3 separate regions of the Homo sapiens genome follow, and all the other regions are linked to region 1. A link means that fine-mapping ties the variant in region 1 to the plasma level of a protein whose gene starts in the linked region. Region 1 holds a variant in brackets. A gene starts in each other region. All regions are shown on their reverse strands.

Region 1 (10,399 bases):
ATGTCTCAGCTCAGGACTTCCTGGGAGGCGACCTCACCCAAGGCTCCCCAAGGTTCCAGTCCTCAATGTCAGGGAGGGGCAGAAGAGACCAGCGGCTTCTCATCCAGGCCCCACAGTGCTGTGCTGAGCCCCATATGCCCCCCGCTCAGGCGGGTCCAGCACTCCCTGTGGCTCTCGGGGGAGACGAGCTGAAATGGAGTGGGGTCCTTGCTCAGCTCACAGCACCCTCTCCTCAGCCTCACCCCATTGGAAGGTGGCCCCTGAACCCTCTGCCTACCTGTCCTGTGCACTCCTCTGGGTTAGCTCTGAGAAGGCTGGGAAGGCCCTCGACCCACCTTGAGCCAGGTGTGGGAACAGAGTGGTCAGTCTGCGCCCTGGAACAAAGATCAAAGCCAGGGTGAGGCTGGTCCAGAGACGTCCCCAGGCCCTTCCAGGGTCAGCTTCCTTCACCCACAGGCTCCTGGTTCCCCTGGAGGGACCAAGCAAAGCCAACATAGCAGGGAGCCTGCACTCTGCCAAGCCTAGGGGTGCCCTGGCTTCTCCCCTTGCCTGTGTGTGTGGGTGTCTGAGGATCCCAGGGTGGAGATGGGGAGGGACGCGGTGTGGGAGGCCCAGTATTGGGCAGCACCGTTGGAGGGGACTGAGCTCGTCGGGGGGTGACCAGCCCTCAAGGCTTTGGCTGGCTGAGGGGTGAAGGGCCTGTGCCTTGTGCTCCAAGCCTTTCCCGCCTGGACAAAGAGACCCCTGGGCCCGCAACAGCTTCCACAGGAGCCTGGCCCTGCCCCTCCTCGGGTGGCCTGTGGCCACAGGGACCCTTCTCCCACCCTTTTCCCAGGCTCCCTGTGTCCTCACAGCCAGCCCCCACATCTGCAGAGCCCTTCTCTGAAATGCCAGACAGGAAGACACACCACTGAACCTGGAAGCCCCAGCTGGCAGAAAGGGGGTTGGGCACCTCAGGCAGGCCTCACCTGCATGCCCACGCCATGCTGCCCACGGCAGGGCCAGGCCACTCCAGGCCCCTCTGTCCTGCAGGCGAAAAGCCAGGAGTGGAGCTGCACCAGGGTTGGGTCCTGAGCAAGGTGAGGCCCCAGCCCCATCCCCACTCCCCCCAGGGCAGGCCTAGGGTGCGGTCCTGAGGGCGCCTGGGGCTGGCCTGCCCGTGTGCACCCCCCACCCACAGAAAGGGCTGGAAAGAAGTCCCACCTGTAGACGGAGGCCAGAGGAGGGGACAGCCTTGTCCTTGCTCCCCACCCTGCCTGTCTGCACGGGAGCCCACGGTGGGGCCCAGGAGGCACCTCCCTCAGGCCGGCTGTCCCTCCCCACCTGGGGCCCATCAGCTGGGGGTACTGCCAGGTGCTGGAACAGGGCCTGGGGCCTGCTACAACCAAACCTCTAGGCCCCCATATGTGAGTCAGGGTTCTCCAGAGAAACAGAGCTGCTGGGCGATACGTTTAGGAGGAGATTTATTACAGGAATCGGCTCCTTGATCACGGAGGCTGAGAAGTCCCACAAACCGCTGTCCCTAAGCCAGTGAACCCGAACAGCGGGTGGCGTCATTCAGTCCAAGCCCAAACCGCTGGTGTCAGTCCCAGAGCGCAAGGCCTGGGACCCAGAAACTCCTGTGTCTGCGGGCAGGAGGAGATGGACGCCCCAGCCCAAGAAGACAGAGGAACCTCCGGAGTCTGGGTCTGCAATGGGCTGGGTGCTACCCACCCTCATAGCTGAGGCCAGATCTGCCTTCCTCAGCTCACTGACAAATTACCATCTCTTGTGTGACCTGAGAGTGCACAAACACTTCCTGGCAGGGAGGAAAAAGCAGTGACAAGCACATTTAAAAATAATCAATTTGGCTTTATCCGAAGGAAAATGCTCTAGTTATCAAAAGACACTACAAAGAAAATGACCAGGAAGTCTGGGGAGATACTGCAAAACAAATCCCACACAAAAATCTTGTATCCAGAATATAGAAAGAATGATCATAAATCAATAAAAAGATACACAGCCCCACTTTAAAAATGAACAGAAGAGATTGGAATGGACAGACAGTTCATGACTGATGGTTTCACACTTTTTGTCATGAGGGAAATGCAAGTTTAAGCCACGAACAGATAGAACCACACAATCAGCAGAAGAGGTAGTTGTGAAATCTTGACACCACCGACTTTTAAAGACACCAAAACTGTCACACACGACTGGTGAGAGTTAAGATACTACAGCCACTTCGGGAAAGGTTTGGATAGTCCCTTATAACGTTTTCACTCACCTGCCATGTGAGAACTAAAAATGAAATCCTGAGCTCCCGCACCAACAAGCTGAATGGACCCTTCTTGGCCAAGGGGATTCCAGAGAAATCTGAAAAACATGACAAAAATCCCGCCATGACAGAGTGGGAGGTGGGACCCGCCGCGTGACAGCCCCTCCGTCTGTGGTTGGGACACCACACTCACCAGCATGAAGGTGAACATAAAGAGGAGACTGACAAAACAGGTTCCTTGTGGTGATAAGACAGCAAATGATCAACAAGACCTGAGGCCCTGCCTGGCAGGGGTGGAGTCACGCACAAGACACTGAAAAGCAGAAACCAGGGGCTGCCGGCCAGGAGGGTTCTTTTTCTCTAGCAGCTAAACCAGCGCTGGCCACTAGGAAAGCCACACTCACTCAGGTGCAGCTCACCCCCTCCAGATGCTGACACACAGCCCCACTCTTCTGTGCCACCAGCCCTAAGTTTGATTGGCCAAGAGGCTGATTTCTGTAATTCTGACTGGGGACCACCCAGCAGGGACTGGTTCTGGCTGGTTTTCAGGGGCCGTGCAACGAGTGCCTTGGTGTTGCTGCTTCACCTTTCCAGGCAAGGGCCTCACAGGAACACATTTAGATATCACGTGTCCACCCCCAAGGAAACTTGAGACGCATGTCACATGCATGTTTGTTCAGTATGCATGAGTGAGGACCCCTTCCTGAATGTTCACGGCTCCTCCAGCAACCCATGGAGTGTGTGTCCTTAGCCGACCTGTTCAGCATGAAGCTCCTGCCCCAACCCCCTCCTTCCAGGTGCCCGGCCTGGGCTCTGCCAGAGGCTGAGGTGCCCAGGGTGTCAGGACGGCCACCCTGAAGGCCCTACCCCTTTATAGGAAATAAAGTCTTCTTTCCAAATTTATAGATGTGGGATTTGTTCAGTGGACATAGCTCACCCGGGGCATTTTAGGAATTTACCCAAAAGACATAAAAGTCTGCGTTTACAGAAAGAATAGACCAAAATGCTAACAGCAGCTTTATTCATAGTAGTAAGAACTAAAATCCACCCACATGGGCATCATCAGAAAAACGGCCAAGCTGTGGCTCTTCATGACATGGCTTCAAGTCAGCAATGAAAAGGAACAAAACTCTCAACCATGTTCAAGGGATATGAACCCTCAGGGACAGGGCCCTCTCTCAAAACAGGCAGGTCCAACCCACGTGTAGCTCGTGGTCCCATTCCTCTGCAGGCTCCGGACAGAAAGCGGGAAGCTAGAATCACATAACCCACAAGAGTGGACCCTCCCGCTGGGGAAGGGCGGGGAGGACCGGGAACCCACGAGAGTGGACCCTCCTGCTGGGGAAGTTCAGGGAGGACCAGGAACCCACAAGAGTGGACCCTCCCTCTGGGGAAGTTCAGGGAGGACTGGGAACCCACAAGAGTGGACCCTCCCGCTGCGGAAGGGCAGGGAGGACCAGAGGACTCGGGGATGATGAAGACGTTCCAGCTCCTGACGCTGGCGAGACTCACGCTGCTGACACCTGTCACAGTGCACGGGCTCACACTTAACTTTTGTGTGTTTCACGTTGTTTTCATATTCTGGTGTAAGTTTGTTTTATTTCTCTAGAAAGAAGCAAGGGCTGTGAATGGTGATTAAACGTTCCTTCTCAGGTTTGCCTGTGCGTGGGGTAGAGGTGGACCACGCAGACCCTCCCTGCTGTGAGCTCCGTGGAGGGTCAATGCAGATGCAGGGAGACTGTGGGGCCCGGTATCCGTGACGCTGGACAAGGGGGTTCCCGTTCTGGAAGGAGGAGTCAAGGTCTCCAGTGGTGTCGGATTAGAATATGAGGAATCCGTCTGAGCTCATTCTCCACAGGATCCCACAAGGGAAAACCTGGCTTTTCCCTGTGCAGAGGCCAGGCTTCTATGGCTTCCAGAAGGTTCCTCTGCTACTCTGAGAGGGCAGGGCACTTGCACAGGGAACAGGCAACCGAAGGCAGCCACAGCCCTACTGGAACCGGGGTTTCTCTGCCTTCTGGGGAGAGGTCAGTGGACGGGTTGGGGAGGGGGACAGGCAATCTTCCTGTGGGAGTCGAAGAGCCTGGGGCCTCCCCTCCTCCTTGGAGGCGACCAGACACCTTCCCTAACTGGAGGAAATTCTGAACCCCAGAACTGGAAAGGTCAAAACTGAAACAAAATCGCCCCTTGTTTTGCGAGCTGCTGCCTCCTCTGTGCCCTCAGGCAGGTCCATTCCCTCCTGGTCTCAGTCTCCCCAGCTGTGCCAGGGGGACGCCAGGTGGGACCCAACTGGGTTTCCAAAAACAAAAGGAAATCTAAGTCTCAGAGAAAGGGGAGCTTTGGGCCAGGTTGGGGGAAGGGCCTCGGGTGCTGGAGTCAGTCCTGGGGGAGAGGGAAAGGGCTGTGAGGGGGACATCCAGCAGGTCCCACGTGCTGTACCCCGTATGGCCATGGCTGGTGTCCCAGTGCTTGGGTGCAGACCCAGTGGACAGGATCCATGCTGCAGGGTGACAGACGGCCCATCGCAGGGCCCACAGGGCTCATGTCCCATCCCCTCGGGGTCCGGAGCTCTGGATGGTCCCAGCCCAGCTATCTCCCACTGCAGACGCCCAGGCTCAGCGCCTTCTCCACGCAGCTGTGGGTAGCTGGCCCCTCTGCAGGAAATTCAAGTGAATGGCGATGGCACTTTCGGTTTTCATCTCTGGAAAGCGCTTTCGGGGCGGGAAGGTGGGAGGGACGTTGATGTGAGGCGTGGTCCTGAGTTCTCCTGAGGGCAGGTGAGGGCAGTACAGGGCAGGGAATGTGGGGCTGGGGCAAGGGCTGCTGCCAACTCTTGACCAGAGGGGACACAGAGCAGGTGGAGGAGGGTCTCACCCAGACCAGACCCCAGGCAGGTCAACAAGCTTGGGGGTCCCTGCTGAGGTGGGGACACAGTGGAGGTGCAGGGAGCCAAGAATGAGAGGACCTTCCCATAGGCAGGGACGCAGCCACGTGCAGGGGGCCTGGCCTAGCTGGGGACACAGCCAGGAGCAGGGAGCAGGGGGCACTCACTCAAGGGAAGACATCTACAGGTGCAGGCAGGAGGGAGCTTCACCTAGGCTGGGTCAAAGAACAGGTGCAGGGGCCATGAGGGGCCTCCCAGGCGGACACACAGTGCAGGTTCAGTGGGGGTCTCACCCCAGTGGGGACACAGTGCAGGTGCAATAAGCCTGGGGCCCTCACTGAGATGGGGACACAGCATCCATGCAGGGAGGCGGAAATGGGGGCCCTTGTTCAGGCAGGGACCTGGAGGGGGTGCAGGATCTGGGAGACCCTGACTCAAGAGGGGCCAGGTGCAGGGAGCAGGTATTGGGGTCCGGTACCCAAGAGCGCAGGTAGGAGGAGCGGAGCTCGGATGGAGGCTCTGAAGAGCTGGGCCAGTCTCCAGCGCCCAGGGCTGGCCGAGCGTGGCCAGTGGATCCGGGTGTGTCACATGACGGGATGATGCCAGGCTGTGGGGCAGGGCCCCTGTGGCCATCCTGGCTGTGCACCTGGGTGGCAGCCAGTGGGGCGGGAGCTGGGGCTGCAGCTGTGGTGTTCCCAGAGGCCCAGGTGCCCTCTCCCACACGCCTGGGCCCTCTGGGTTGTGGGAACCGGCCAGCTCCTGCTCTGTCCCCTCAGGTGTCCTGCAGGCACAGCATCTCGGGGGGCCCAGGCCGATGGCAGGTCTTAACGTGTCCCTCTCCTTCTTCTTTGCCACCTTCACCCTCTGTGAGGCAGCCAGGCGGGCCTCCAAGGCCCTGCTCCCAGTGGGCGCCTATGAAGTCTTCGCCCGGGAGGCGGTGGGCGCGGTGCAGCTCGGGGCCTGCTTCCTGGAGATGAGGACGCTGGTCGAGCTCGGGCCCTGGGCTGGGGACTTTGGGCCTGACCTGCTGCTCACCCTGCTCTTCCTGCTCTTCCTGGCGCACGGGGTCACCTTGGACGGGGCCTCGGCCAACCCCACCGTGTCCCTGCAGGAGTTCCTCATGGCCGAGGAGTCTCTGCCTGGCACGCTGCTGAAGCTGGCGGCACAGGGGCTGGGCATGCAGGCCGCCTGCACCCTGACGCGCCTCTGCTGGGCCTGGGAGCTCAGTGACCTGCACCTGCTGCAGAGCCTCATGGC[C/T]CAGAGCTGCAGCTCGGCCCTGCGCACATCCGTGCCCCACGGGGCGCTTGTGGAGGCCGCCTGCGCCTTTTGTTTCCATCTGACCCTCCTGCACCTGCGGCACAGTCCTCCCGCCTACAGCGGGCCCGCTGTGGCTCTGTTGGTCACCGTCACGGCCTACACGGGTGAGCACTGCTTCCCCTTCCCCTGGGCCCCTGAGGACCTCTCACCTGTGTGGCCTCCATGCACACTCAGGCCCGTTTGCACCCAGGATAGGGGGCTGCTGGCCCGGGTGGCCAACAAACCCACAAGAAGAGGCGGTGATTTCCTGGGATCTGGCGGGTAGACGAGGGCCTGCGCTGGACATGGGGTGCGGTGGAGCAGCCTGTCCCCTGCCAGGGCCATCCTGCCCACTGCACCTCTCCCCAGTCCCAGCTATTCTTGGTCCTCCCAGAAGTTCTGCCTCTGGGGTAGTAGGGACAGCCGAGGCAGACGATTCAAGGCCCAGCCCAGTTTCCTGGTCTGGTGTGGGAGTCCCTGCACCCTCTATCACCCCTTCCAGAGCGACAGGTCCTGTCTCACCTGCCCCAGTTGGCCTCCCTGGCCTCCTACTGACACCTGCATCCTGCGATCTCTGCCTGCACCTGGACCAACCGTGGCACCCAGCTCTCATGGTCCCATCACCCCCTTGTGAGCTCCCTCCACTCAGACCCTCCGTCTGATCCAGTCCCCCATGTCTGCTTTCCCCTCCGAGCGCTAGGCTCCACCACCACGAAAGCCTTTGCTCAGCAAGTTCCCAGGACAGGTGTCCACAGCGCTGGGGCTGCAGGGAGAGCCAGGGGAGCCGGCTCGTGCTCCAGGCACCACAGGAAGGGCTGCAGGGAGAATGGTGCCAGGTCTCCTTCCGGGGGTCCGAGGTCCTAATCAGGACAGGACCAGCACTTAGGTCCATGGCACTGCCCACGACCCAGCACTGGGCAGACACCACGGAACCTGGACCACAAAGGCCACAGGAAGGTGCCACCAGAGCCCCGTACAGTTGGGGAAACTGAGGCACGGGTGAGCGGGAGCTCTGCAGGGACACGGCTCTGTGGCAGATTGCCCGGGCCTCTGTCCTGGGTGGCACCGGAGAGCTCCCGTCAAGGGTCCTGCCTCCACGAGGCACAGGGCGCCTGGTCTCAGGGACGGAGCTGCCCATCCTCAGGGTCCTGGTTTACACCTGGGCGGCCGCAGACTCCATGTCCCTGTGGTCCCTGCCCTCCGCTAGGCCCACTCCCTGCTCTTCCGTGCCCAGAGGCAGGTCCCCGGTATTGGTGGATTCTGTTATTTGGGGTGGTCACCCAGGCCTGGGGCTGCAGGACAGCGGCCCGGCTGCCGCCGCCTTCCCTTGTCTCACATCGCACAGCCATGTCGTCTTCTCTCCTCTGCTGCTGCTCCTTTATTTCTGAGATCTCTCTCTGTCTCTCCTCTCTCTCTCTGTCTCTCCTCTCTCTCTCTGTCTCTCCTCTCTCTCTCTGTCTCTCCTCTCTCTCTGTCTCCCTGTCTCTCTCTGTGTCTTTTTGTCTCTCTCTCACTATCTGTCTCTCTTAGTGTCTCTCTCCATCTCTCTCTGTCCGTCTTTCTCGAAGGCCACATCCCACAGGGTGGGGTGCTGGAGGGCAGCATGGGCGGGGCACGGGATCCCGGTGAGATGTCGCGAGGGTGTTGGACGGCCCTGGGGGGCCCCCAAGCTGCTGCCCCTGACCCAGACCTTGGCTGACCCGGCCTTGCTGCATCGTGTGTCCATCGGTGCGGGGGACCAGGCGGGGCTTCAGGAGCCGAGAGCAGCTCCCAGGCCTGCACACAGTGGGGCTCTCGGTGTGGATTCGGTGGCGGGGATCAGGTCCTGGCCTGCAGAGGGGCGTCAGGCAGGGCTGGGGACCAGGGCTGTCTGTGCTCTGCCCACAGCCGGGCCCTTCACGTCTGCCTTCTTCAACCCTGCCCTGGCCGCCTCTGTGACCTTTGCCTGCTCGGGACACACCTTACTGGAGTACGTGCAGGTGTACTGGCTGGGCCCTCTGACAGGTAAGGGCAGGGGCAGGGTGGGGTCCCTAGGGCTGCTGGGGCCCACAGAGCATCCTGGCACGTGGGGTCCTGCAGGGTGGAGGTGAGGGTGCCTGGTCAGTGCTCCTGGGGAGGTCTCTGCAGTGGGCATGGTTTGGGGGGTAGGGGCTGTGACGGCATGTCTCACTGTGGACACCGTCCCGGTGCCGAGCAAGCTGCAGCCAGGTAAGGAGGCCACAGGCTGGGGAAAGGCCAACCTTGCAAGGGGTGCTGGGCACACGGGGGATGGTGTCTGCAGTGGGGCTCCATGCACCTGGGGTTCCCGTCCCAGGTGGCATCTCCACACACCCAGAGCCAGACTCCGCCGAGGGGGGCTCATTCTGGTGTCCCTAAAGCCTCAGGAGGCAGAGAGCCCCGCTTAGATGATATAGGGTGCCATCGTGCACTTATAGGGCTGTGAGCATGGGGCTGGAGCAGCCAGGCCCTTTGCATCCTGGTGGGGCAGACCCGGGACTCGCTGATGCACACAGGGGACCCCAGAGTTCCCCCACAGTGTGTGCCCCTCCTTTCTTATATCCTGGATCCAAGCAGAGGAGCAGCATGGGGAGGTCATGGAGCCCCCTCTTGGACCTAGATCTGGGGATTCTGGCCCCTGGCTTCAGAGGCCCAGGTGGAGCCCACACCTTCTCCTGCACCTGCTCTCAGACACTCGGCTCCACCTCACTGAGGTACCAGAAGGGCAGCTGGGTTCCTATGGAATTCTGGAAGCTTTTTTCAGCTTCTGCTGGCTCTACACTGGGGAGGTCTCAGGGGCAATGCCTCAGCCTCCCCTTGGGGGGAAAGACAGGAGCTGGGGGTCTCTCAGGCACCTGGCCCTGCGATGGTGACACTGACGTCATCGTGATTTGTCGCCATGGTTCTGATGTGGTCACAGTCTCTCAGGCATGTGCAGGGTCCTAGGAAGCATACGAAGTGCATCAGGAACCCCCTCCTGCCCCCGTTGCCGAGGCAGCACTGCCCTCTGCTAGGAACAGCTCCGTGTTGGCCTCTCTGTCCCCACACACTGGGCCTGCAGGGCTTCTCCGAGACTCTTCAGTTCAGGTATCAACCCTGGGCTGTCTCCTGGGATGTGGGGGGCGGATGTTCTTTCCTTGCCTCCCCACGCTCCTCCTGCGGATCCTTCACTCCGGGTGGGTCGGCCTCTTCCTCCTGATCAGCTCCAGAGCCCCCTCTAGTTCCCTGGCATGGAAACACGGCCCGGGTGAGCTGTGGTGGCCCCGGAGGCCTCTCCGCTCCTGCACAGGCCTTGCTTCCTGCGGGTGACGAGGTCCTGGACTCTCTCCTGCCCAGGCTTCTGGGTGCTTTCCTTAGTTCAGCACCAGTGCTCTGTGTGGGCAGCGTCTCCCCCGAGGATCCGCAGCTCCGGGTTACCCGCAGGCGTCCATCTCCGGTATGGTGCTGCCCTTCACTGATCCTGGTTGTATTTCTGTTTCCTGCTTTCCTCATCGCCTCCTGTTTCGGTTGATTCCTTCTTTTTGCTGGTGCCCGTCTCACAGTAGCTTCCTGAGAACGGGGACCTGGCAGGTACACTTCAGACCTCCTGTGTCTGAAATAGTGTCCTGGTTCTGACCTGCACTTGAGTGTCGGTGAGGCCTGGGCAGGGTTCCGGGTGGGAGCTCAGTTTCGTCCTGAGTTTCTCAGGCCCCAACCATGGCCTGTGGTGGCTTCACGGGCTACAAGGCAAAGGACGCAAACGAAGAGGCTTCACGTGACAGGGTTGTATGCTCAGCCAGCTCTGGAGGCTGGAGTCTGAGCTGGCAGCACTGACAGGGTCAGCTCTCCTCGGAGGCTGCTGGGGAGGAGCCTCCTGCCTCTTCCGGGCTCCGGGGGCCTCTGGCACCCCCGGTGTCCCCGGGCTTGGAGACGCAGCACTCCCATGTCTGCCGGTTCCCCTGGCCGCCTCCTCTGTGTCATTGTCTGTT
Region 2 (10,399 bases), not on the chromosome of region 1:
ATTGCCTTTGTAGGACTAACATTAGCCACAAGATTAGAAATTATGGTTTAGGAGTCACGCAGCTGGAGGCTACAAGATCCTGATCCTCCCTAAACTACTCCTAAGATCAGTGCTTGAGATATTTTGCTGACCCTGCACTTGATGGATCAGCTGGCCCCACCCAGATCAATAAACTGGCTCATCTGATCTTGTGGCCCTCACCCAGTAATTGACTGGGTGCACGAAGACAGCTCTGAGTCCCTATGATTTCATCTCTGACCAATCATCACCCCTGGCTCACTGGCTTCCCCCCACCCACCAAGTTATCTTCAAAAACTCTGCTCCCTGCTGGGCATGGTAGCTCATGCCTGTAATCCCAGCACTTTGGGAGACTGAGGCAGGTGGATCACTTGAGGTCAGGAGTTCAAGACCAGCCTGACCAACATGGTGAAACCCCATATCTACTAAAAATACAAAATTAGCCGAGCATGGTGGCACATGCCTGTAATCCCAGCTACTCGAGAGGCCGAGGCAGGAGAATCACTTGAACCCAGGAGGCGGAGGTTGCAGTGAGCCAAGATCATGCCATTGCACTCCAACCTGGGCAACAAGAGCGAAACTCTGTCTCAACAGCAACAACAACTCTAAAACTCTAGTCTCCTGCACCTGCACAGCCGGCTCTGCATGAAATACTCTTTCTCCACTGCAATTCCCCTGTCTTGATGAATCGGCTCTATCTAGGTAGTGGGCAAGGTGAACCCCTTCAGTGGTTACATCCTGAGGGCTGTGTCACAGGCCATGGTTGCTCATATTTGGCTCAGAATAAATCTATTCAAATATTGTACAGAGTTTGACTCTTTTCATTGACAGGTACTTAATTTTTGCTTTCCTTTTAGAAGCACATACAGTGTCAAAGTTCTCTTTGCTACACTTCATTTGTAATGGAAAAAACTCCAGCCTTTTTTCTTTGCAAGCTTGGCTGAGACCAACTAGGGACAGGGCTGATGGTTTTCACAGCTCCCTTCATGGAGAGAAATCACTCCTCTGATTCCTTTGCCAGTCTCCATCTTGACTTGTGAGAAGGGAATAGTGATTCCCTTCTCTGTGGCTCACCTCACAGAGGTCCTGGGGGTGGGGAGCAGGTAGAGAAAAGAGAAGGAAGGATCAGAGTGAACTCATAGGAAAAAGTGCTTTCAAACATTGAGTTCTATAAAAGAGAGGGGGGATAGTGTTCTTTCATCAATGGTATTTCTGCATCGCTGGAACCAAATTGGTTTTTCTCATTTTGAGAGTCTCCTGGTTGTTCCTCCAGCTATTTCTCTACATTCCACACCCCAGGGATGTAAAGGTGAGAGGAAGGGGGTCATATTACATGGCTGGGCACCCACCATGTGCCAGGCACTTCCGAAGGTGTTCCACGTGCATTGTCTTAATCATGACCTCAGGAAGTAGGAGGCGTTATCCCCCTAAGATAAATAAGGAAAGTGAGGTTCAGGGAGCTTCACTTTCAATAATGTGTCTGAGGCCACGTAGCTCCAGTAAATGCTGAATTTTGAAGCCAGCTTGGTCTGGATCAAAGCTGTGCTTGAGGCTGGGCACAGTGGCTCACACCTGTAATCCCAACACTTTAGGAGGCCGAGGTGGGAAGATTGCTTGAGCCCACGAGTTTTAGACCTGGGAGGCTTAGGGGGAAGATTGCTTGATCTCAGGAGGTGGAGGCTGCAGTGAGCCAAGATGGCACAACTGCACTTCGGCCTAGGTGACAGAGTGAGACCTTGTCTCAAAAAATTAAATTAAATTAAATTAAAAGCTGTGCTTGAGGCCTGGGCCTCTCAGTGGAGCTGTCTTCTACCTCCTGGGATGGAGAGGGGAAGGGCAGGGGCCTCTGGCTGCCATGACTAGTCCTTCAGGAAAAGCTGCTCTGTTCCCATGCCTGAGCAAACTCAGGCAGCTGTGCCCTTCCCAGCTTCCTGAGGCCCCTGCTCCATCTGAGGCTCATGAGACCTCTTCATTCTCAGCCAGGACTAGCGACTGCTCACGCGCGCACGTGGCCTTGGGTAGGGGGCAGCGTGAGTGGAAACCTTAACTAAAGGGGTGAGTATCTGATGCTGGAATTGCAGATAGTAAGTGAGGTAGAAAGGAAAGGGGAGAGAGGCATTTAGGAAGGGCCTCCTAAGGGCCCTTGAGTCAGGCCTGCAGGCAGCCCCTGGTGTGAGGGCAGGGGGAGGGTGCCAAAGTGAAAGCACACACACCCTGGCCTGCTGGGGGTTGCAGAACTGTCAGCCCCAGGGATCTGGGCATGGCCTGGAATCCCCCGAGGAGACTGAAGGAAGGTTGAGGGGTGGGAGGCTAGGATCCTCGTCCCTGGAGTCTGACACTGCTAGACACCTGGGCTTGGGTGGGCCAAAGGCAAGGCCTGACTATAGTGAGGCAGAGAGGCCCCAAGTACACAGAATGTAAGCAGGCACTCACACCATAGGTGCCTCTCTTGCCTTGGATTCGTCCAGGCACTGCCCAGGAGCTCAAGACACAAGGGCAGCCACCCTTACCCACTGCTTATGTGGCATATGGGAATATACAATATAAATATATTCTTATAATTGTATATAATAATGTTTATATATATGTAACACATAAATGTGTATTAATTCAACCCTCACAACTCTTTAAATTATCCTTAGTTGACAGATAAGATGAAAGGCAGAATAGTTGGAACAGATAGTAAGTTTGCCTCACTAATAACTTGTACACAGTCCATACTCTTAACCACGATGCAACACAATTATCACCAACACACACACACACACACACACACACACACACACACACACGAAAAAGGCCACCAGGTACTCACCCAGTTTCCTTATCAGGAACCGCCCCACAGCAGATTGGCCACAGCTGTGCCTCTGCCCACGGCCAGCCCTGTGGGATGCAGGTGGATCTCGTGAGGTCAGGGCCCCTTTTATAGCCCCATCACCACAGCTGGCTCTGTCTCCCGCCACCCACACCAGCTGTCCCACTCACCATGGAGAAGATCCTGATCCTCCTGCTTGTCGCCCTCTCTGTGGCCTATGCAGCTCCTGGCCCCCGGGGGATCATTATCAACCTGGTAAGAGGGTCTTCAGGGGAGGCGCCTCCTGAGTCCCCAGATGAAGACTTCCTAAGCTTGGACCTTGACCTCTGATGTCTCCACCTGGACTGGCAGGGGCTGGGAGGAGTGGCATCTTGCATCCCTCTGTTTACTTCCATGTCCTGTCCTATGCCTCTTCCCAGAGGCCACAGGAAAGGCTGATCAGCCCCTCTCCAGCTCCAACTGGAGCATGCTCAGAGCAGCAGCTCAACCTGGCTATGAGGGACCTTTTTTTTCTTTTTTTTCTTTTTGAAACGGAGTCTTGCTCTGTCACCAGGCTGGAGTGTAGTGGCACAATCTCGGCTCACTGCAATCTCTGCTTCCCGGGTTCAAATGATTCTCCTGCCTCAGCCTCCCAAGAAGCTGGGATTACAGGTGCCTGCCATAACGCTCAGCTATTTTTTGTATTTTTAGTAGAAATAGGGTTTCACCATGTTGCCCAGGCTAGTCTCAAACTCCTGACCTCGTGATCCGCCCACCTCGGCCTCCCAAAGTGCTGGGATTACAGGCATGAGCCACCTCACCTGGCCCTACGAGGGAGCTTTGTAAAAATCCAGAGCCCTGGGCTTCCATCCTGAGAAAATGCTTTGCGCCAATCATTCCAGCTTCTGACTTATGGAGATGCCTCGGAGATGTTTACTCATTCTGTTCTCATAATAACCACTGAGGGAGGTGTTTTCAGAGTCAGCCCTGTCTTCAGACAGAGAGAGGGTGAGCAACCTGCCTGAGGTCACATAGCTGGAAAGTGGTTCAGCTGGGGCCCCACCACTGCCCCACACCACCTCTCCACCATGGGTCTTGGCTGGGAAAGCCCTTCCAGAACGTCCATGCGGTTGAAAGGTTCTGAACTCTCTTAACTTGGGGCCATGGCTGGACTTGGAGGTCCAGGACCCTTGGAGATTATAGATCAGATCTGTTGGGGGAGGAAGGAGTCTTGCAGGGAGATGCAATCTTCACCGCCTCCTTAAAGAGGTGTGGGACCCAGAGTGGTTTGGAGAACTTGTCTAGGGGCCTTGTGTGCACATTCCAAATGGGAACACTGAGGCTTGGGAGGCAGTGACTTGCCCAGAGTCACACAGGAGGTTGGTAGCACAGCCGGTACTAGAACCCAGGGGTCCTGACCCTCTGTGCAAGTCTGCTTCTCTGTCACCGCATGCCCACTTCTCACGTGGGTGGGGGGCACAGAGGCCACCAGACCCAGGGGATGGACTCCTTCACACACATCCCTACCAGGGGAGACACTGTTAGTGGTAGTGTGTGGTGGGTACAGGTCTGAATGGAGAAGGGACCTGAGGGAGTGGGGCCTGGGCTGACTGGCTGCTCCTGGCAGGAGAACGGTGAGCTCTGCATGAATAGTGCCCAGTGTAAGAGCAATTGCTGCCAGCATTCAAGTGCGCTGGGCCTGGCCCGCTGCACATCCATGGCCAGCGAGAACAGCGAGTGCTCTGTCAAGGTGGGTGCCTGAGGACTTGGCGTGGGTGGGGGAGAATGGGGAGTAGGGCCCTGAACACTTGTGAGTGGGATCAGGGAGGGGGGTCAGCCTGGACACTGAATGTTGAGGAGACGAGAGGGAGGTCGACAGGTGTCAAAGCACTTTCCCATCCCATCATCTCTCTTGACCCTCCCGAGTGACCAGTGAGATGGGTGGGGGTGGGGATTTGTTATCCCCATTTCATGGCTGGGTAAATAGAGGCTCCCCAGAGAGATCAAGCTAGTAAGAGCAAATGAGCCAGAGCAGAGGTCAGAGCTGGGGTCTCCAGGGCCCACGGCACCCCTGGGGAGGCAGGTGGGAGAGGCACTCCCCGAAAACACAGGCTGGCCTACTGGTTCTCTAGGTCAGGCAGGGGACAAGTGATGTCCAAAGTATCTCCCCATAGCCTTGACTCCATTGGCTGTGTCTCTGCAGACGCTCTATGGGATTTACTACAAGTGTCCCTGTGAGCGTGGCCTGACCTGTGAGGGAGACAAGACCATCGTGGGCTCCATCACCAACACCAACTTTGGCATCTGCCATGACGCTGGACGCTCCAAGCAGTGAGACTGCCCACCCACTCCCACACCTAGCCCAGAATGCTGTAGGCCACTAGGCGCAGGGGCATCTCTCCCCTGCTCCAGCGCATCTCCCGGGCTGGCCACCTCCTTGACCAGCATATCTGTTTTCTGATTGCGCTCTTCACAATTAAAGGCCTCCTGCAAACCTTTCCCAGTCTCCTGCATATTCTTTCTGACTCAGCATCTTCTCTGAAGTTGCATCAGGCCTTTGGTCCACCAGGGCAGGCTTCAGGCAGGTCAGAAGAACAAGGGATGGGTCTGGGGCTGAAGAAGTTGTGGCCAAACAGATTGGAGACTGAAGACAAAGCTGTGAAGGAGACCCAGCCAGCCTAGGAAACCCTCCATTTCTGGGGAGAAGTCACACCTACCTGGGATGCCCTCCTTGTCCCTCCGGTTCTCAAAGAGACAAGCGGGCACATGTGCATGCGCGCGCACATACACACACACACACACACACACACACACACACACTTGTGGGTAAGGAGTTTTAATGGCCCATGTTCGTCACCCTGCATCAGAGGCATCAGAATCCTGGGCTCTCACCTCTTTTCTGGACACAATTCTCAAATATGACAGCTAGCTGACACAACTCATGTGTTAAGGGGTCAGACCACTCTCAATTGCTATGAGCTTACTCTCTGCCAGCAAATGCTCACAAGGATCCCAGGAGGGAGAATTTCTCATCTCCACTTTATAGATAGAGACCAAGTTTCAGAGAGGAGCTTGCCCAATGTCACATAATCAGAAAATGTTGGCACTCTACCATCTAACTCCACTGCCCTGCTTCTATGATTCCTTTTTTTTTTTTTTTCTGAAACAGAGTCTCTCTCTGTTGCCCAGACTGGAGTGCAGCGGAGTGATCTCTTGGCTCACTGCAACCTCCACCTCCCAGGTTCAAGCGATTCTCCTGCCCCAGCCTCCCCTAGTAGCTGGGATTACAGGCGCCTACCACCACGCCCGGCTAATTTTTGTGTTTTTAGTAGAGACGGGGTTTCATCGTGTTGGCCAGGCTGGTCTCAAACTCCTGACCCCAGGTGATCCACCACCTCAGCCTCCCAAAGTGCTGGGATTACAGGTATGAGCCACCGTGCCCGGCCTTATGATTCCTTTTTCTTTCCCAATTATTCGCATTAAGAAAAATGGGTGGAAACTGCAAGGAATTTAATTTTGCCTTAATATAAAAATTGTATATCCCCTGGAGCCATCAAACATGAGTTACCTTAGGCAGTACTGAGGTGCCCATCATCCAGGTACGCAGGTGGAAGCTCACTGACCCCTCGGTGGAGATGCTAGAGAGGAGATTCCCACAGAGAGTGAGGGACAGTGAACTGAATGAAACTTCGATGTCGTCCCAGCCCCAGGATCTTGCAGTTCTGTGATCAATGAATCCTCCTGTAACCACAGGCTTATGAGTTAGGATTGCATTCAACTGTGAGTAGCAGAAAAACCCAAGTAATTATGGCTGAAGCAAATAGGAACGTATATTTCTCATGAATCCAAAGCAAAGACACAGGAAGTGCTGGCATTCTTTTGGTGGCTGGTAGCTCTTGACCTTCTCTTCAAGGTTGCCACATGCCTTAGCAGCAGCTCATGACTTCACGTTCTCACCGTATTCGAAGGCAGGAAGCATGGAGTAGCTGGCAGCTGGGAAGGCGGGAGAAGGAGCAGAGAGTTTCTTCTTGCATACCCTTTTTTTTTTTTTTTTTGAGACAGAGTTTTGCTCTTGTTGCCCAAGCCAGAGTGCAGTGGCACGATCTCGGCTCCCTGCAACTTCTGCCTCCTGGGTTCATGCGATTCTCCTGCTTCAGCCTCCCAAGTAGCTGGGACTACAGGCGCCTGCCACCACGCCTGGCTGATTTTTTGCATTTTTAGTAGAGACAGGGTTTCACCATGTTGGCCAGGCTGATCTTGAATTCCTTACCTCAGGTGATCCACCTGCCTCGGCCTCCCAAAGTGCTGGGATTACAGGCATGAACCATGGCACCTGGACCATACCCTCTTCTTATCTTTCCTCAAATCCTCAAGGCCGACTTCTCTTCATATCTCAGTGGCTAGAACTAGGTTATCTGACTACTTCTAGCTGCAAGGGACGCTGGGAAAGCAAAGGGAATAAGATCCTTCTCCTGGGGCCAGGTTCATTGATGCCCAAACAATATTGGGTTTCAGTTGGCAGGGAAGGGGGCAATGGCTATTAGGAAACCAGGTAATGGTGTCTGCCACATATGAATTATGTGCTCAACAAGAGGAGCTTTCAATACCTTAACCCAGGAGGGGTCTCAGGCCCTGAGCAGGGCTGAGTCACGCTTCTTGGTGCCACATTCGGTCCTGGAGATCTGCATTCATGTCCCCTTCATGTGTTCACTGAATGACCACAGTGTGCCTGGCACCGTGTTTTGGACTGTGGGGGGCATAAGGAAAATGTCCCTGGTCTTCAAAAGTGAGTAGGGAGTTGGGCTTTGGGCTCTGCAGAAGCAAGTGACCAAGACCCCAACCATTATGTAGCTTCCATTTTATTTCCAACGGCCAGTGCTCCTGTAGACTCTCAATTTCTGCTGCTTTTCAGCATCACACGCCTACACAGCAGAGGCACAGTCTAACCACAGCTCAAGGAACCAGATGGTCCCCACTTACAATGGTTTGACTGACAATTTTTCAACTTTATGATGGTGCAAAAGCAATATGCATTCAGTAGAACATCAATAAATTACATGAGATATATTCGACACTTTATTCTAAAATAGGCTTTGTGTTATTTTTCCCAGCTAATGTAAGCATTCTGATTGAGCACATTTAAGGTAGGCTAAGCTAAGCTATGATATTCAGTAGGTTAGGTGTATTAAATACTTTTTTTTTTTTTTGAGACAGGGTCTCACTCTGTGACCCAGGCTGGAATGCAGTGGCATGATCATGGCTCACTACAGCCTTGACATCCTGGGCTCAAGTGATCCTCCCACCTCAGTTCCCCAAGTGCTAGAACTATAGGCGTGTGCCACCATGCCTGGCTAATTTATTTATTTATTTATTTATTTATTTTTGTGGCGGGGGGAAGATGGAGTCTGTCTCTGTTGCCCAGAGTGGAGTGCAATAGTGCGATCTCGGCTCACTGCAGCCTCTGCCTCCCAGGTTCAAGCAATTCTCCTGAATCAGCCTCCCGAGTAGCTGGGACTACAGGCACATGCCACCACGTCCAGCTAATTTATTTATTTATTTATTTATTTGTATTTTTAGTAGAGATGGGGTTTCACCATGTTGCCCAGGCTGGTTGCGAACTCCTGAGCTCAGGCAATCTGCCCACCTAGGCCTCCGAAAGTGCTAGGATTATAGGTGTGAGCCTCCATGCCCGGAGTTAATTTTTATATTTTTAGTGGAGATGGGGTTTCACCATGATGCCCACACTGGTCTTAAACTCCTAGGCTCAAGCAATCCGCCCACCTCAACCTCCTAAAGTGCTGGGATTACAGGCACAAGCCACCACACCTGCCCATTAAATGTATTTTCTTTTTCTTTTTCTTTTTTTTTTTTTGGAGACAGAGTCTAACTCTGTCACCCAGGCCGGAATGCAATGGCACGATCTCGGCTCGCTGCAACCTCCGCCTCCCGGGTTCAAGTGATTCTCCTGCCTCAGCCTCCCGAGTAGCTGGGATTACAGGCGTGCCCTCCACGCCCAGCTAATTTTTGTATTTTTAGTAGAGACGGGGTTTCACCATGTTGGTCAGGCTGGTCTCGAACTCCTGACCTTGTGATCCGCCTGCCTCAGCCTCCCAAAGTGCTAGGATTACAGGCGTGAGCCCCCGTGCCCGGCCTATTAAACGTATTTTCAACTTACGATATTTTCAACTTAAACAATGTGTTTATCAGGATGTAGCCCCATCGTAAGTCAAGGAGCATCTGTACTTTATTCCCTACAAATCTCTCTGGATTCTGACAACGGCAGCCTCTACCAATGACCACTTTTCCCATAGGGCAGCGGAATCCCCATGGCTTGTGAAGGGGTCTAGAGAATGCCACTGAAGCATAAAAATTATTCTGAGCAGAAGGCATTTGAAAATGGGCCTTTTTCTTTTCTTTCTTTCTTTTTTTTTTTTTTGAGACAGAGTCTTGCTCTGTCACCCAGGCTGGAATGCAGTGGTGCGACCATGGCTCACTGCAGCCTCAACCTCCTGGTGCTCAAGTGATCCTCCTGCCTCAGCCTCCTAAGTAGCTAGGACTACACGTGCGTGCCACCACCGGCTATGTTGCTGTTGTTGTTTGTTTTCAGACACAGGGTTTCGCAATGCTGCCCAGGCTGGATGAGAATAGGCTCTTTTCTGAACTCCTTTGTCTGCCTAAATGCAGAGCCCTGCAAAAGAGCTCCATTGTCATAAATCCCCCTCCCAGGAGTTTCTCAAAACCAGGGAAAATTGACTTATTGCTGGAGGGGAGAATAGTTGGCACCACACCTAAACAGTCAGGTCACGAAACTATAATAGCTCCCATCTTTTCTCCTAAGGGCCCATTCATCTTTCCTAAAAATTACTTTTCTATAAGTGTCCTTTCTCCTCCTCCCCTTCTTCTATTGAGATGGTACATAACCCGCAAATTCTAACTTCCTTCTAGAGTCACACTCTTCCATGAACTTCCCTACATTCTGAATAAAAATCGGTCATTTCTCTTTTATCGGTTTAATTCTCAGGCCTTCAAGTACTGAACCTAAGAGGATAGAGGAAAAGTTTTCCTCCCCCAACACTTGGAACCAGTTTAGTCATGTCAGCAACGTATCTTCCCCAACTCCCTTTCTTTTTTGTTTCTTTTTTTTCCTTATTAGGCTAAAAACGTTTATTAAAAAAATTAACAACTTTGTTTTAAAGCATTTTATATTCCTGGATGAAAATATCCAATATTGGAAAAAAGTGAAATTTCAGCCGGGCACAGTGGCTCATGCCTGTAATCCCAGCATTTTGAGAGGCTGAGGCAGGATTGCTTGAGGCCAGGAGTTTGAGACCAGCCTGGGCAACATGGTGAGATCTCCCCCTCCCCATCTCTACAAAAATCTTAAAAATTAGTTAGGTGTGGTAGCGCACACCTGTGGTCCCAGTTACTCAGGAGGCTGAGATGGGAAAATCACTTGAGCCCAGAAGGATGAGGCTGCAGTGAGCTGAGATGGAGCCACTGCACTCTAGCCTGGGTGACAGAGTGAGACCCTGTCTCCAACAAAACAAAACCAAACCATAAAATTTCCTCAAATTAATTTTTTTTTTT
Region 3 (10,399 bases), not on the chromosome of region 1:
CCAGCCTGGGCAACAAGAGCGAAACTCCATCTCAAAAAAAAAAAAAAAAAAAAAAAGAAGCCAAGTAGATGTGGCCTTGCTGAAGCGTGGGTACGCCCTCACCTGAAGGGGCCAAGCAGCTATGCTTAGCTGTTCTTTCCACTGAAGAGTGTGTTTTTCCCAGGCTGGGAGAGGCTGTGCTTCGCACACCTGTGCAGGGATCTGGGGTGGTGGAAGGTCAAGGTACAAAGAGTGTAGGGGCTTGGGGAGCTACCTAGTGCCCTTCCAGGTCCCTTATACTGTCACCTTTGTGGCAGGAGCCACAGAGGTCTGGGCTGTCACAGTGAGCATGTCTCTTTCCAGGGGGAGAGGGTTGTGGCAGCGGCCGGACCCCCTCCCCACCAGGTGCTTTGCCTAAACTCCAGCACGTGGAGTTTGTCCAGATTGTTCTTAGGAAGGCTTTCATGGGCTGGGGAAGGAGGGAAGTCGTAGGTTGGACTGAATCTCTTCCTTCCTCAAGGGACTTTCAGTACTCCCTAGCCTGAGATGGTAGCATGAGAACCAGATCGAACTCATATCTTGGTCCTGATGTGTGACTCTGGGGCAGTCACTTAACCTCTCTCAGCCTCAGCTGTCTTCTCTGTAAAATGAAGTTTGTACTGGACCTACCTCGACCTTTGTGCCAGGTTCTTAGCATATGGGACCTGGGATGGAGTTAGCGCTCAGTTAATAGTAACTCATTAGCCAGGTGCGGTGGCTCATGTCTGTATTCCCAGCACTTTGGGAGACCGAGTTGGGTGGATCACTTGAGAGCAGGAGTTTGAGACCAGCCTGGCCAACATGGCAAAACACTATCTCTAATAAAAATACAAAAATTAGCCAGGTGTGGTGGCACTTGCCTATAGTCCCAGCTACACAGGAGGCTGGGGCAGAAGAATCACTTGAACCTGGGAGGTGGAGGTTGCAGTGAGCCAAGATTGCACCACTGCACTCCAGCCTGGAAAAAAAGGGTAATTAATAACTTTACTTGCAACCATAGCTGCTTCTCCTTCTTTGAGCCACCCCCAATCACCCACTTAGCATCCTTCAGGCCTAAACCTAGGAGCAGTGCCTGGTCCTCTGTCTTGTTATGACCCCAAGGAACCCACATAAGAGGGACTGAACATTTTGCTGGGCAAGGCTTCCCTTTGCTTGGGCAGACTCCACTCATTCTGGGGCTGCAGAGGCAGGACCATTCAGTCAAGCTGATGTGGGATTCTGACCTAACCAAGTCCCCCTCCATTAGTCCTCATAGCCCCCACCTCCCATGGGGCAGCCCTGAGACAGGCTCTGTGACAATCCACAGCAGCCCTGTCCAACAGAACCTTCTGTGATCATGGAAACATTCTGTGGCTGCCAATCTGGCAGCCACTCGCCACATGTGTCTATGAGCCTTGAAATGTGGCCATTGTGACTGAGAAACTGAACTTTTAATGGTATTTCATTTTTATTTTTATTTTTTTTTTATTTATTTTGAGGCAGAGTCTCACTCTGTCACCCGGGCTGGAGTGCAGTGGCACTCGGCTCACTGCAAGCTCCGCCTCCCGGGTTCACGCCATTCTCCTGCCTCAGCCTCGGGAGTACCTGGGACAACAGGCACCCGCCACCACGCCCGGCTAATTTTTTGTATTTTTAGTAGAGATGGGGTTTCACCATGGTCTCGATCTCCTGACCTCAGGTGATCCACCCGCTTCGGCCTCCCGAAGTGCTGGGACTGCAGGCATGAGCCACCACGCCCGGCCCAGAAAAGAGATGATTAAACATAAAGCAGCCATGTGATGAAATGGCACTTTGCCTCTGTGGTCTTCCTCCCCCAAACCCATAACTGTAATCTAATTATGAGAAAAACACAGGACAATTCCAATAGAGAGCCAGGTGCAGTGGTTCACGCCTGTAATCCCAGCACTTTGGGAGGCTGAGGCGGGCAGATCATGAGGTCAAGAAATCAAGACCATCCTGGCCAACATGGTGAAACCCCGTCTCTACTAAAAATACAAAAATTAGCTGGACGCAGTGGTGTGCACCTGTAGTCCCAGCTACTCGGGAGGCTGAGGCAGGAGAATCATTTGAACCCGGGAGGCAGAGGTTGCAGTGAGCTGAGATCGCGCCACTGCACTCCAGCCTGGTGACAGAGTGAGACTCCGTCTCAAAAATAAATAAAAATAAATAAATAAAAATTAGCTGGGCGTGGTGGCACGTGCCTGTAATCCCAGCTACTCAGAGGCTGAGGCACAAGAATCACTTGAACCTGGGAGACAGAGATTGCAGTGAGCCGAGATTGTGCCACTGCACTCCAGCCTGGGCGACAGAGTGAGACTACAACAAACACACACACACACACCCACACACACACACACACAAATTCCAAGAGAGGGTCATCCTGACCAATACTCCTCAAAACTATCAAGGTTGCTGGGCACAGTGGCTCACGCCTGTGATCCCAATGCTTTGGGAGGCTTAGATGGGAGGATCACTTGAGGCCAGGAGTTCAAGACCAGCCTGGGCAACATAGGGAGACGCCGTGTCTCCAAAAATTTTTTTGAGACAGAGTCTCGCTGTGTCGCCCAGGCCGGAGTACAGTGGCGTGATCTCGGCTCACTGCAAACTCTGCCTCCTGGGTTCACGCCATTCTTCTGCCTCAGCCTCCCAAGTTGCTGAGATTACAGGCACCCGCCACCATGCCCAGCTTATTTTTTGTATCTTTAGTAGAGACAAGGTTTCACTGTGTTAGCCAGGATGGTCTCCATCACCTGACCTCGTGATCCGCCTGCCTCGGTCTCCCCAAGTGCTGGGATTACAGGTATGAGCCACCGTGCCTGGCCCAAAAAATTTTTTTAAATTAGCCAGGTGTGGTGACACATGTCTGTAGTCCCCACTAATCGGGAGGCTAAGGTGGGAGGATTGCTTGAGCCCAGGAGGTTGAGGCTGCAGTGAACTATGATCGTGTCACTGCACATCAGTCTGGGAAACAGAGCGACACTTTGTCTCAAAAAAAAAAAACAGATAAATAAATTAAATAACCAGGCCCTCCTTATCCCACAGGGTTGTTGTAGAGGTGACATAGGAACAGAAGAGCACCAAGTTAACCAATTATAAATCTATATAGAGAGAAGCAGATCAGAGGCCAGGCACAGTGGCTCATGCCTATAATCCCAGCATTTTGGGAGGCTGAGGAGTGGATCACCTGAGGTCAAGAGTTTGAGACCAGCCTGACCAACATGGTGAAACCTTGTCTCTACTAAAAATACAAAAATTATCCAGGCATGCTGGCAGGCGCCTGTAATTCCCAGCTACACGAGAGGCTGAGGCAGGAGAATCGCTTGAACCTGGGAGGCGGAGGTTGCAGTAAGCCGAGATCGTGCCATTGCACTCCAGCCTGGGCGACAAGAGCGAAACTCTGTCTCAAAAAAAAAAGAGAGAGAGAGAGAGAAGCAGATTAGCAGTTACCAGGGGCTGAGGGAGTGTGACTGCTAATGGGTACAGGGTTTCCTTCTGGAGTGATAAAAATGTTCTGGAACCCCATAGAGGTGATGGTTGCACAACACTGTGAAGGTACTAAATGCCCCCGAATTGTTTACTTAAACGTGGTTAATGTTATGTGAATTTCAGCTAAACAATGTTATGTAGATATTTGGCCGGGCGCGGTGGCTCACGCCTGTAATCCCAGCATTTTGGGAGGCCGAGGCAGGTGGATCACGAGGTCAGGAGATCGAGACCATCCTGGCTAATGCGGTGAAACCCCATCTCTACTAAAAATACAAAAAAAAAAATTAACCGGGCGTGGTGGTGGGTGCCTGTAGTCCCAGCTACTTGGGAGGCTGAGGCAGGAGAATGGCATGAACCTGGGAGGCAGAGCTTGCAGTGAGCCAAGATCGCGCCATTGCACTCCAGCCTAGGCAACAGAGCAAGACTCCGTCTCAAAAAATATATATAAATAAATAGATATGTGATGTGACAGGTTTTTTTTTGAGATGGAGTTTTGCTCTTGTTCCCTAGGCTGGAGTGCAATGGCGTGATCTCAGCTCACCGCAACCTCCGCCTCCAGGGTTCAAGCCATTCTCCTGCCTCGGCCTCCGGAGTAGCTGGGATTACAGGCATAAGCCACCATGCCTGGCTAATTTTGTGTTTTTAGTAGAGACAGGGTTATTCCATGTTGGTCAGGCTGGTCTCGAACTCTCCACCTCAGGTGATCTGCCAGCCTCAGCCTCCCAAAGTGCTGGGATTACAGGCATGAGCCACCGTGCCTGGCCTCTGATATGACAGTTCTAATGCCCTTTAGTATTCTATAATTCAGACTCAGGCCTTTGGAATCCAAAGCCCAGGTTTTTCTCACAAACCCACACTGCAGAGCGGAGTGGTGGAAAAAAATAAAACCTCTGCCTTGGAATCAGACAGATCTAAACTGGAGCCCTATTTTGTCATTTGCCAACTGTGTGACCTTGGGCAAGTTACCGCAACTCTCTGAACCTGTCTCTTTATCTGCAAGGTGCACGACTGATGGGACTATTCAACCAGACCCAGTGCACAGATTCAGGCACTTGATAAGACATTGAGGCTGCAGGCAGCGATCTTTTTTCTTTCTTTCTTTTTTTTTTTTTTTTTTTGAAATAGGGTCTCACTCTGCTGCAGAGGCTCAATCACTGTTCATTGCAGCCTTGACCTCCCTGGCTCAAGAGATCCTCCCATCTCAGCCTCCTGAGTTGCTGGGATCACAGGTGCAATCCACCACCACACCTGGTTAACATTTTTTTTTTTAGAGATGAGGTCTCTCTATGTTGCCCAGGCTGCACTTCCTTCTTGTCTCCCTTATCCCAGCGTCCGACTGAACTGACGGCTTTGCTTTCCCCAACCAGCCCGTGAAGCTGGGCTGAGTACAAAGTGGTGGGTATGAGGGTCAAGATTGTAAGATCTGAAAACTCCAGAAACCATCCCTTTGGTTAACAGTTGCTAAGGACAAATGCATAACATATTTTCCAGTGATCCCATGCTGGCAAATCGTCAGGGTCATTCCTGCAACAGACAGATTCAAGGCCAGCCCCAAACTCAGCCAAGAGCAAAGCAAACACTCCAGCCTTATCTGGGCAGGGTTGTGTGGAGACTGACTATAAGACTATACCTGAGACTGGTCATCTCAGTTCTTTTCTCACCTTGACTGCAAGATGAAACTCCTTGTGCTAGCTGTGCTGCTCACAGGTAGGCAAGTCTCCCCGGCTCCACCCGCCTTTCTCTCCCAAGTGAGCTAAGATCTCACTCCTCTGGAATGGGGGCCACAGGCCACAGCAAACAGGGATGGCCAGCCCCGCAGTCTCAATTCGAGGTTCCCAGTGGGGCTTAAGGGCTCCTCTATTGGGGTTCCCTCAAGGCTGGCACTTTTTCAACCTGCAAGTCTGAACTCAGATTGCCTGAGCTAAGAAAGCTTGCCTTTATTTTCTTTTTTCCAGACAGGGTCTTGCTCTATCACCCAGGCTGGAGTTCAGTGGCATGATCATAGCTCACCACAGCTTCCAACTCGTGGGCTCAAGTGATCCTCCCACCTTACTCAACTAAGTAGTTAGGCCAATCTCCCATTTATTTTATTTTATTTTAATTTTTATTTTTATTTTACTTTATTTTATTTTTGAGACGGGGCTCACTCTGTCGCCCAGGCTGGAGTGCGGTGGCGTGATCTCAGATCACTACAACCTCCATCTCCTGGGTTCAAATAATTCTCTTGCCTCAGCCTCTCAAGTAGCTGGGACTTGTAGCTCTCAAGTAGCTGGCACACACCACCATGCCCAGCTAATTTTTTGTGTGTTTTTTTTGGTAGAGACAGGTTTTCACCATGTTGGCCAGGCTGGGTGACCTCCCTTTTAGATTCTCCTCATCCTGCTCTATTCTTCCCCTTTCTAATGCAGTATCCAGTTTCCTTACTTATCACATTTATTATTATTCTTATTATTATTGAGACAGAGTCTTGCTTTGTCGCCAAGGCTGGAGTACAGTGGTGCGATCTCGGCTCACTGCAAGCTCCACCTGCTGGGTTCACGCCATTCTCCCGCCTCAGCCTCCCCAGTAGCTGGGACTAAAGGCGCCTGCCACCACGCCCCGCTAATTTTTTTGTATTTTTAATAAAGACGGGGTTTCATCGTGTTAGCCAGGATGGTCTCGATCTCATGACCTTGTGATCCGCCTGCCTCGGCCTCCCAAAGTGCTGGGATTACAGGCATGAGCCACCGTGCCCGGCCTTATCACATTTATTATTTATTGTTTTTCTCTCCCACTAGGTTGTAAGCTCCATGAGGTTAGAGATTATTATTATTATTATTATTATTATTATTATTATTATTATTATTATATCTGTTCACTGCTGTATCTCTAGCTCCTAGGACAGAGCCTGGCACATAGTAAGTGCTCAATAAATATTCACTGGATAAACAGTGCAGATAGTTTAAAACTATCTGACCTAGGGAGGCTGAGGCAGGAGAATGGCGTGAACCCGGGAAGCAGAGTTTGCAGTGAGCTGAAATCGTGTCACTGCACTCCAACCTGGGCAACAGAGCAAGACTCCATCTCAAAAAAAAAAAAAAAACTATCAGGCCTAGCTGGGTGGCACATGCCTGTAATCCTAGCTGAGGCGGTAGGGTCCCAGAAGAAGAAGAAGAAGAAAAAGAAGAAGATATATATATATATACACACACACAAAGATATAAACTTTATATATATAAAGTTTTCATTAAAAAAAAAAAAAAACCTCTACCCACTTTCACTTTACCAGGTTCCTGGGTCCAACGGTCTTCAGAGGAGGCAGCTGGCAGGGGTCAGGGAGGCAGCGTGGGACCCGAGGGAGCAGGAAGGCAGTGTGTCCCCGGGGTGCTGGCAGACCGATTTGAACTCTGGCTATGTCTTCTTGCAGTGGCCGCCGCCGACAGCGGCATCAGCCCTCGGGCCGTGTGGCAGTTCCGCAAAATGATCAAGTGCGTGATCCCGGGGAGTGACCCCTTCTTGGAATACAACAACTACGGCTGCTACTGTGGCTTGGGGGGCTCAGGCACCCCCGTGGATGAACTGGACAAGTAAGTGATCCGCCTGCAGGAAAATTGGAGTGCCTGCCGGGGGCGGGGTGGGGCACACGCCAAGGATCTCACGAGGCATACAAAGGGGACTTGCATATCTGCTAAGGATAACATATTTTCACCTCTTGTCAAATAAACAAATATGTTCCAAGAGGACCCTGTAGCGAACGCACCCCGTTAGAGATGGAAACAATGACCGACGTGCAAAACAGTGGGCGATGCTGCCCTCCAGTGGCAGAATGTAGCAACAGTAAACATCACAGCAACTATCCACGTGTCATTTTCTAGCAGTGGTTGTCACTGCACCTTCTGAATACAGGATTTTACTGTATTCTTGCAACCATGTTAAAAATCGCTTTCAGGCCAGGCGCGGTGGCTCATGCCTGTAATCCCAGCACTTTGGGAGGCCGAGGCGGGCGGATCACTTGAGGTCAGGAGTTCGAGACCAGCCTGGCCAACATGGTGAAACCCTGTCTCTACTAAAAAATACAAAAATTAGCCGGACATGGTGGCGAGCGCCTGTAACCCCAGCTACTTGGGAGACTGAGTTGGAGGTTTCAGTGAGCCAAGGTCGTGTCACTGCTGTCCAGCCTGGGTAACAGAGCAACTCTGTCTCAAAAAAAAAAAATGCTTTCAATAAATATATGATAAAAGGACTTATATTTTTTCAAGCCATAGGATCATTTCTCCTGAAGCATCTTGGCGAAGTCATCCCCACCTGTTCCTGAGAGTGGGCAGGTGAGGGCTGACCTATTGCTCTGCACTTACTCCTATCTCAGCTGTCCCTCCCACTTTCCAGGTGCTGCCAGACACATGACAACTGCTATGACCAGGCCAAGAAGCTGGACAGCTGTAAATTTCTGCTGGACAACCCGTACACCCACACCTATTCATACTCGTGCTCTGGCTCGGCAATCACCTGTAGCAGTAGGTTTATCCCTTCCTTGACCTATGAATTCTAGTTGGTTCTCAGTAGGCCGGGGGGAAATAATAGTAACAACAGCCATGATTTAGTGTTAATTTTCTTGGTTCTGGGCAGTGTCTCCTTTAATCCTCAGAACAACACTATGGGATAGGTACAATTATCCTCACTTAACAGATAAGAAAACTGAGGCTCAGAAGGCTGAGCTATTTGCCCAAGATCACACAGCTTGTAAGTGGTGACAGTTTGGGTTTTTTTTTGTTGTTGTTTAGAGACAGGGTCTTGCTCTGTCACCCAGGCATGAGCACAGTGGTGCAACCATAGGTCACTGCAGCCTCAACCTCCTGAGCTCAAGGGATCTGCTGACCTCAGCCTCCCAAGTAGCTGGGACTACGAGCGTGCACCACCACGCCTGGCTAATTAAAAAAATTTTTTTGTAGAGACTGGGTCTTACTACGTTGGCCAGGCTTGTCTTAAACTCCTGGCTTCAAGCAATCCTCCTACCTTGGCATCCCAAAGTGCTGGGATTACAGGGGTGAGCCACCATGTGCGGCTACTTATTTCTTTACATTCCATCTTTCCAATAGAATGTAAGATCCACAGAACAGGGATTACTGCCTATTTTCTTCCTTTCTTTTTTGAGACAGAGTCTCACTTCATCACCTCAACCTCCGTTCAGCTCACTGCAACCTCTGCCTCCCGGGTTCAAGCGATTCTCCTGCCTAAGCCTCCTGAGTAGCTGGAATTACAAGCGTGCACCACCATGCTTGGCTAATTTTTTGTATTTTTAGCAGAGATGGGGTTTTACCATGTTGCCCAGGCTGGTCTCAAACTCCTGACCTCAAGTGATCTGCCTGCCTCAGTCTCCCAAAGTGCTGGAATTATAGGCGTGAGTCACTGTGCCTGGCCGATTACTGTCTATTTTCTTTATTGCTATATCCCCAGATCTAGAGCAGTGTCTGACATATAGTAGGTGCTCAATAAATAATTGATGAATGCACAGCCTAGATATAAACTTTCTTTTTCTTTTTTTAAAACAATCTTGACAACTTTGCAGAATAAATACAATCTTGCATTCTGCTTTTTCACTTATCACCTTGTTATGACTTTTTCATATTGCCTCAAACCTTTATTGTTACTGTTTTTTCATTGTTACTATTTTAGTCACTGAATAATATGGCTTAATTTGCTTATACATCCTCCTGCTCCACTTTAGAAGGCCAAATTTACAAATCTGATGAAAGCTATGAACCCTCTCCCCAGAGAAATACACACACACACACACACTCACACACAGTTTTTTTTTAATGTTTGCAACTAAGACAAGAAACCTGCATTAGAGGATGTTTGTTCATATTAATTAAAAATAACTCAGTTGGGCACAGTGACTCAAGCCTGTAACCACAGTACTTTGGAAGTCCAAGGTGGGTGGATCACTTGAGGTGAGAAGTTCGAGACCAGCCTGGTCAATATGGTGAAACCCTATCTCTACTAAAAATACAAAAATTAGCTGGGTGTAGTGATGCATGCCTGTAGTCCCAGCTACTCGGGAGGCTGAGGCAAGAGAATTGCTTGAACCTGGGAGGCAGAGGTTGCAGTGAGCCGAGATCCCACCACTGCACTCCAGCCTGGGCGACACAGCGAGACTCTATCTCAAAAAAATAAATAAATAAAATAAAGGATCGGAGAGAAACAAAACTAATAAGATTCCTGAAGGTAAGCAGAGATACGTAAATTATATGTAATAAAGTTTAAATGCATTTTAACTGTAATCTTATTGTTTATTTTGGTTATAAAAGTAAACAAGCCAAAAGTAATGCAACTTCAAACTCTACATAAATATCTATTATGGAAAGTGGAAGGCATCTATAATCCTACTACCCAAAGATAACCAGTTACATATTCCTCCAGATTTTTGGGGCATACACTAGCTTTTTTTATTTGGGAAAATTTCCATGTGCAGGCATACCTAATTTTTCTAAATGTCTATGTAGTATTCCATTTAAGGATGTTCCATAATTTTTAAAATACATGCTTTAAAGTAGAGAAACTAGGTTGGGCATGGTGGCTCACGCCTGTATCCCAGCACTTTGGGAGGCCGAGGCAAATGGATCACTTGAGGTCCGGAGTTTGAGACCAGCCTGGACAACATGATGAAACACCCTCTCTAATAAAAATACAAAAATTAGCTGGGCATGGTGGCGAGCACCTGTAGTCCCAGCTACTCAGGAGTCTGAGGCAGGAGTATCACTTGAACTCAGGAGGCAGAAGTTGCAGTGAGCTGAGATCACGCCACTGCACTCCAGCCTAGGCGACAAAAGGGAAACTCCGTCTTAAAAACAAAACAAAACAAAAAAACACAGGATGCCCAGATAAATATGACTTTCAGATAAGCAATGGATAATTT

Alleles and levels. Alleles are on the strand shown, and positions count from the first base shown. The strength of an association depends on the size of the effect and on how common the allele is.
In carriers of allele T in region 1, the plasma level of the protein whose gene starts at base 2,970 in region 2 tends to be higher than with C alone (weak association).
As copies of T replace C in region 1, the plasma level of the protein whose gene starts at base 5,152 in region 3 goes up (weak association).

The links. PIP is the posterior inclusion probability: the model's chance that the variant is causal. Protein levels are from antibody-based Olink assays in UK Biobank. Linkage for the fine-mapping came from a reference panel and not from the study's own genotypes, which makes the PIPs less certain.
Region 2: CLPS starts here. The variant in region 1 is fine-mapped to the plasma level of the CLPS protein (UK Biobank, PIP above 0.99).
Region 3: it holds the start of PLA2G1B, and the variant in region 1 is fine-mapped to the plasma level of the PLA2G1B protein (UK Biobank, PIP 0.98).

Annotation. Positions count from the first base shown.
Region 1 is chr2:240,678,391-240,688,789 of GRCh38, reverse strand. AQP12B (aquaporin 12B) reads left to right here and starts at 5,905. Exons shown (of 3, transcript NM_001102467.2): 1 at 5,905-6,559; 2 at 8,322-8,438. The coding sequence starts at 5,953. It overlaps LOC285191 (a long non-coding RNA gene), which reads right to left and starts at 2,456. Exons shown (of 3, transcript NR_149021.1): 1 at 969-2,456; 2 at 278-374; 3 at 1-188. The variant C/T (reference allele first, on the strand shown) is at 6,396.
Region 2 is chr6:35,789,894-35,800,292 of GRCh38, reverse strand. It overlaps CLPS (colipase), which reads left to right and starts at 2,970. Exons shown (of 3, transcript NM_001832.4): 1 at 2,970-3,088; 2 at 4,440-4,562; 3 at 5,016-5,311. The coding sequence starts at 3,005. The coding sequence ends at 5,147. It also overlaps a transcript of CLPSL1 not described here.
Region 3 is chr12:120,322,532-120,332,930 of GRCh38, reverse strand. PLA2G1B (phospholipase A2 group IB) reads left to right here and starts at 5,152. Exons shown (of 4, transcript NM_000928.3): 1 at 5,152-5,211; 2 at 6,911-7,070; 3 at 7,870-7,997. The coding sequence starts at 5,178. RefSeq lists an enhancer at 7,196-7,255.